2 linked regions of the Homo sapiens genome follow. The protein of the gene in region 2 purifies or fractionates together with the protein of the main gene of each other region. This does not show direct contact. Each region holds a gene or a part of one and is shown on either strand. Other genes may lie near its edges.

Region 1 (3,500 bases), on a different chromosome or scaffold from region 2:
AAAGAAAGAAAAAGTTAAGAACTCCTGGATTAAGCAGAACTGACCTGAAGAAAGTTAGAAAACTTGGGTGAAAGGCTGGGCCTAAAAACAGACCAGAAAGAATTCACTGAGGAAAAGTGAATTTGTACAGTGCTTTTCAGACTATCTCACCTTGGTACCCCTAGTTAACTGCAAAAAAAATAAAGAGTAAACCTTCTACACTGTGAAGTTGATGGTACCTAGCTCAGGGCAGATATTGGAAAAACCGTTGCCCAAGAATTTAAAAAAAAAAAAAAAAGACATGGTCCAGTGAATAAGGAATACGAAAAAATTAAGGAAACAGAACAATCTCAAGGATTGGGATAAATAAGTCAAGTGGATATTATAGCACCCAACTTAGAAAGAGAATCTTACAAGGAAGAAGCCAAAAATGTCCACTACCACACGTGTCTGCACAACATATAATAGGAGAGGCTAGATATGATTCATTTTTCTGTCATGAAACAGGATCCATTTTGTTTGAAGTCAAGGTTGGCAGTGAGATAGGAGGGGAGTGAACTCTACAGCACTGAAAACTATACACATATATGAGGTTTAAATTACTGATCAGGTTCTTGCCTGTAACAGCAACTATCTTTTACCTACTGATTGTCAGACACAATGCTAGGCACCAAAGACACTTTACAGCTGATCCTTCAAACACACTGAAAGGTATTTATTATCATACCCATTTGACCAGCTAGTAAAGACACAGGTAGGCTAATCAACTCCCCTCACATCATACTGTAGGTGAGACACTAGGCTAGGTCTTCAAAGTGTGGGCTGTTAACTCCAGAGAGAGTGCTTCCTACACCAACAGGGCTTTCCAAGCCACACTCTGGAAAGTGCTAGGGTTTCTGGGGTGGCCACCGTGAGGAACATGGAGAAGTGATTAGTCAGGAAGTGTAACTCTGAAGAGACTGGCATCTGGAGTCACAGGCTGGGATTTGAATCCCAGTCCTGGCTAAGTATCTGTGGCCAAGTGACTTAAGCTCTCTGTGCTTCTGTTTCCTCATCTATAAAGTGAGAATAACAATGGGATTGACTTCATACCATTGTGAGAGGTAAGAACAGTGCATGGCATTTAGTAAGATCTCAATGAATGAGAGATACTATTTCTATTATTCTTACAAGAGGAAAGGCAAGCAGGAGGGCCACTGGTCCTCACCCTCACTTTGACCACAAAGATCTTCTTTCATTTATTCCATAAATTGAATTTCCTCATGAGATGTCTCTTACAGAAAACAATCCTTTGATTTAATAAAAAGGAGGATAACAACAAAGTTTAAAAACCATCACGTTACATTTTACCTGTATCACTGAAATCTATGAATTCTTTTGACAGCAGGTTAGTAAGAAGTTCCATAATGAGAAGCAGGTCTTGGTATTGCTCTTCTTCTGCTGTAACATCTATTCTTTGCCGCCCTAAATTATTCTTAGAATACACTTGCAACAAAGTAAGGCAGGCTTCATATAAGTTCATAGCTTTGGACTGAAAAAAAAAAAAATGCACAAATTATGCTACTTGGTACACTGACATTAAAAAAATTTTAAAATATAATCTATATAAATTAACTCCGAATTCCAACAGTAGCAATAATTCTTGCTTTAAACTACATTAAAACAATAATTTCTAGAAAGCATATATTAAGAGTATATTTTTTTTAATTTTACCCCTTTTCTAACAAAATTTTAGGACAAGAATTTATATTCAGGTGCAGCAAACCACCATGGCATACATATACCTATGTAACAAATCTGAACGTTCTGTATATGTATCCTGTTTCCTTTTAGAAGAAATTAAAAAAAAAATTTACATTCATTCAACATGACTTTCTCTAAATTATAAGTTCTTTTCAAAAATCTTTTTTAAAAATCTTTTGAAGGAATAAAAATATTATTTAAGATAATACTAATCAAATTTTAAGCAAAGATCTATTATTTTATTACAGCTTCAAAGAGTTTTAATCCTGAGGGGATAAAATTAGAAAGTGCTTACCTCTCCAAGATAGCATATCTGTTTATGTGCAACTTCAACAAAAACTTCTATAATGAGATTGACAGTCTCTGGGGTATTCTTGTAAACTTCCATCAATCCAATGCAATTGGTAAGGAAGTCCATTAAAAAATTAAACAGGATTGCTACGTTGTCAATCTGGGTAGCCTCAGCAATGCCACACAGGGCCTCTAGTGTGGCAGTGATTTCCTGCTTGACTTCCTCTTGCTGACACATCTGCTGGAAGTTTTCTTGGTTTATCACTCTTAAGAATCGCTGCTGAAGTGGCTGAAGAACCTATAAAAATAAACCAGGAATTTTCTTAAAGCTCAGTTCTCATGCTTTATTTCCTCTGCTTGGATACATATTCACTTTCCAAAACATTTCTAATTGTTGGAGGCAGGACAAGCACATAACAAAGAATATCTAAACCAGACTTTACACTCCCCATTTTGAGGGTCATCCTAACTTTCCGCTCATGTAAAGCCAGAACACCCAAAGCATGGGACATAACTGTCTCCCTGCCATTCAAAGAATTCTGCCATTTCCCTCCATCTCTTTCCAAGTAATGAGTCAAAAAGGAAAAAAAACTTTGTTTACAAAATCAGACAGTAAGCCACATTTGGCCCATGGGCTGCAGCTTGCCGACCTCTACAGAGTGAAGCCCAATTCAAAGTTCTTGTCTGTTTTTTTCCTTTTTCCTTTACCTAATTCCTCTTGGCACAGAACGTAACTTCAGATAATCAGTCCTGCCCTGTATATAAGAGTACTCATATTCAAGAGGACAGTATCTTAATTCGACTTTAAGTTGTCCATATGATAATACAATTGTTTAAAATAAAAATACTTAGTCAGTCTGGTTTCCCCTGGATTTGAAGTCACAAACAACTGCCTAATTCCATTACTGTGCCCCTTCTCAAACACTAAGGGCCCTCTAGACAAGGACTGCAGGCTGGCAACCTACACACACTGGCAACTCTTGGCCCTTGATTTAAAGCCTATTAAATAATGTGCCCATGGTTGTTGTTATGGGTCAAACTGTGTTCCTCAAAAACTCATATGTGGAAATCCAAACCCCAGGATATGAACTTATTTGATAATAGAGTTGGCCGGATGCAGTGGCTCACACCTGTAATCCCAACGTTTTGGAAGGCTGAGGTGGGCGGATCACTTGAGGTCAGGAGACCAGCCTGGCCAACATGGCAAAACCCCGTCTCTACTAAAAATACAAAAATTAGCCAGGCATGGTGGTGCGCACCTGTAATCCCACCTACTTAGGAGGCTGAGACAGGAGAGTCGCTTGACCCAGGAGGTGGAGGTTGCAGTGAGCCAAGATCACACCACTGCACTCCAGCCTGAGTGACAGAGCAAGACTCCGTCTCAAAAAAAAAGAAAATAGGGTTGTCATAGATGTAATTAGTTCAGATGAGGTCATACCGGAATAGGGTGGGCCCCTAGTTCAATATAACTGATATAGAAAGGGGAA
Region 2 (3,853 bases):
TTAACCGTTAGCCCAACACTACAATAATCCCAAATCCCCTCTATCACACTTGCCTTTTTCTTAATCCTGTGTCATCAAGACTTAAAAATAGATCATTTTATCCTATCTACTCTATATAATCTTCAAAGATTTAAAAAAAAAAAAAAAAAAAAGAACTGTTGCTGGAGTATACAGCCAAGTTCTCTAAGAAATTCTTCCCATTCTGGCCAGGCACAGTGGCTCATGCTTGTAATCCCAGAACTTTGTGAGGCCGAGGTGGGCAGATCACAAGGTCAGGAGCTCGAGACCAGCCTGGCCAACATGGTGAAACTCCTTCTCTACCAAAAATACAAAAATTAGCTGAGCATGGTGGCAGGCGCCTATAAGCCCAGCTACTTGGGAAGCTGAGGCAGGAGAATTGCTTGAACCCAGGAGGCAGGGGTTGCAGTGAGCCAAGACTGTGCCATTGCATTCCAGCCTGGGCAACAAGAGTGAAACCCAGTCACAAAAAAAAGAACACCGAAAAAAGAAAAAAAAACAAAAAAAAAAAAACGATGGCTTACGTCTGTAATCCCAGCACTTTGGGAGGCCGAGGCAGGTGGATCACAAGGTCAGGAGATGGAGACCATCCTGGTTAACACGGTGAAACCCCATCTCTAGTAAAAATACAAAAAAAAATAGCCAGGTATGGTGGCAGGCGCCTGTAATCCCAGCTACTCGGGAGGCTGAGGCAGGAGAATGGTATGAACCCAGGAGGCGGAGCTTGCAGTGAGCCAAGATTGCACCACCGTACTCCAGCCTGGGGGATAGAGCGAGACTCCGTCTCAAAAAAAAAGAAAGAAATTATTCCCATTCTAATGAGCCATGAAAATTTTATAGAAGCCCTTACTTTATGATGACTATGCATCTATAACAATTATTCTCAACTCGTTCCAGTTATTCTGCTCCCAGTTGAGAATAACTGTTTTAGATGCATAGTCATCATAAATTTAAAATGGACATCATCACCTAATTCTTATTCAGGTTCTTTCTAGCTTGAAATACCTGCAAGTCTCTGAATATTGGTGGATAAAATGACAAAGATTCTATCAGAGCTCCTCTATCTTCCTAACTGCTCTTGGTCTTTGTTGATTCTTTCACTATCACTTGTTCCCTTATCCATGGGTACTATCCAAACTTTATCCTTTATTCTATCAATCCTAAGTATTAATCACAGGGCAGAAACTATTATCAGTTTTATGCTTTTATCTCTACACTTAATTTATTGGCGAATTCACCAACACAACTCCACAATAAACTAATTTTTCATGTATGCTTTTGTTTCTATCTGTAGTTGCTTAGAAATCTTCGACAATCGAATGTTGCACCATGAACTCAAAACGTCTGAACTAAACTCATCTTCAAACAAGAACTCCTTCTAAATGAACCTTTTATTCAGAGGTATCATTGAGTCTCCTAAGCTGGTTATCTTAAAGCTATTACCTCCCTCTTACCATTCCTTCATTCCCCCTTAGTCGAACTTTTTAAAAAATCCTTTTATTTGTCCTTTAAAAAGTCTTTCGTTGCCAGCTCATCTTTTCCAGTCCAAATGACACACTAATCAACTATATCTCATCGTTGACTACATATATATGCCTAAGTTACTGCCAAAAGCTCAAAACAGATTTTACCAAGTACAACTTCTCACCCTTCTACCCATCTTGCACACTGTTAACTAACCTTCCTTAAAAAAAACCTTACATATCACCCCCCTCTGCTCAAGAACCTAAACGATATAATGGATCAAACCTTTAACTCATTACTATGTTTTACGTTCTATCCTCAATGAAAGACCTCTGTTCCAATCAATTCAGGCTCACCGCTCCAGCAGAGATGAAGTTATTGCAAACTCTGCCTTTGTTCACTACTCCTTTCTTCCAAATGCTACTCCACCTTTCCTCTTCACTTATCTACTTATTAACTATTAATTCTTTTGTTGTTGTTGTTGGGGGATTAGGGACAGGGTCTCACTATGTTGCCAAGGCTGGTCTCAAACTCCTGGTCTCAGGCGATCCTCCTGCCTCAACCACCCAATGTGCTGGGGCCAGGTTCAGTGGCTCATGCTTGAAATTCCACCATTTGGGGAGGCCAAGGCAGGCAGATCGCTTGAACTCAGGGGTTCAAGATTAGCCTGGGCAACATGGCAAAACCTAGTATCTACAAAAATAAAAAACAAAACAAAACCAAGGTGCTGGGATTACAGGTGTGAGCCACCATACCTGGCCTACAGTACTATTATAAAGTTGTTAAAGTATTGTTTGCTTAACAAATAAAGGTCTTTTTCCAACTCAGGTATTCCACCTTATGTTACAGAAAAACACAACTGTAAAATTGTAAGAGGCTTCAGTTTTTACCAAATTGAAATTTGGTAAAATTTTGAGAAAATTTTGAGTTTTAAAATCTCAAAAGTTATTCAAATTTTTCAATTTCAGTAAGTCAATTCTAATTAATTTATCTCTTTAAAAAGTCTTCTGCAGTTACACACTTAATCTCTAAGTGTTTCATGTATTAGCTTTGTCTCACCACATATAAAACTACTTCAGGGCCAGGCGCAGTGGCTCACACCTGTAATCCCAGCACTTTCGGAGGCCAAGGCAGGTGAATCAACTGAGGTCAGGAGTTCGAGATCAGCCTGGCCAACATAGTGAAACCCAGTCTCTACTGAAAATACAAAAATTAGCCGGGCATGGTGGCGCACGCCTGTAGTCCCAGATACTCAGGACACTGTGGCAGGAGAATCACTTGAACCCAGGAGAAGGATGTTGACGTGAGCAGAGATCACACCACTGCACTCCAGCCTGGGGAAGAGAGTGAGACTCCGTCTCAAAAACAAAAACAAACAAACAAAAAAGAAAATTAATTCAGGACAAAGTCTGTCTTTCATAAAACTTATCTTCCCAACAGGTACCTTGCACATTTTAAGCATACATATCAGGCTGACTGATGAAAACATACATCCTCCTTAATGGCTTAAGTTGCCCTTTTTTTCTTTTCTTTGAGACAGGGTCTGGCTCTGTCACCCAGGCTGGAATGCAGTGATGTGATCATAGCTCACTGCAGCAGCCTCTATGTACCCAGCTCAAGGGATCCTCCTACCTCAGCCTCAGCCTCCCAAATGGTTGCGATTACAGCTACGTATCACCACACCCAGCTAATTTCTTTCATTTTTGGTAGAGACAAGGCCCCTCTATGTTGCCCACGCTGGTCTTGAACTTCTGGGCTCAAGCAATCCTCCTGCCTCAGCCTCCCAAAGTGCTGCAATTATAGCCATGAGGCACCGTGCCAAGTTGCCTTTTTTAAAAAAAAATTTGCCAGGCATGGTGGCTCACGCCTATAATCCCAGCACTTTGGGAGGCCAAGGCAGATCACCTAAGGTCAGGAGTTCAAGACCAGCCTGGCCAACATGGTGAAATCCCGCTTCTACTAGAAATAGAAAAATTTGCTGGGCATGGTTGCACATGCCTGTAATCCCAGCTACTCAGGAGGCTGAGGCAGGAGAATCGCTTGAACCCAGGAGGCAGAAGTTGCAGTGAGCTGAGATCACACCATTGTACTCCAGCCTGGGCAACAAGAGCGAAGCTCCATCTCAAAAAAACAAAAACAAAAACAAAAAAAAATTCATCCTCCTTTTTACCTGAAAGGACTACAGTTTCCAAGTAAAGCAATACCAATTCTTTGTTAAATAGTGAGAGTATATTTTGTATACTGCTTCCAACAATCTCTGTATTTAAAAAATACAATCTTGATATATATATATACACAAATATATATATATTTCTTTAATCAGAAATCAAGAGCTGGTAGTATAACAACATTTCACAATGATAAAATGGGA

The links. The genes of interacting proteins can lie anywhere in the genome.
Region 1: the proteins of OCIAD1 (region 2) and XPO4 purify together in Homo sapiens (co-immunoprecipitation; 2 studies listed by BioGRID and IntAct, with this or other methods). This does not show direct contact.

The regions. Positions count from the first base shown.
Region 1 is NC_000013.11:20,794,747-20,798,246, forward strand, and holds part of XPO4 (exportin-4), read right to left. Parts: intron 2,312-3,500; coding exon 2,018-2,311; intron 1,511-2,017; coding exon 1,330-1,510; intron 1-1,329. UniProt on the Homo sapiens protein: Mediates the nuclear export of proteins (cargos), such as EIF5A, SMAD3 and isoform M2 of PKM (PKM2). In the nucleus binds cooperatively to its cargo and to the GTPase Ran in its active GTP-bound form.
Region 2 is NC_000004.12:48,833,942-48,837,794, reverse strand, and holds part of OCIAD1 (OCIA domain-containing protein 1), read right to left. Parts: intron 1-3,853. UniProt on the Homo sapiens protein: Maintains stem cell potency. Increases STAT3 phosphorylation and controls ERK phosphorylation. May act as a scaffold, increasing STAT3 recruitment onto endosomes. Involved in integrin-mediated cancer cell adhesion and colony formation in ovarian cancer.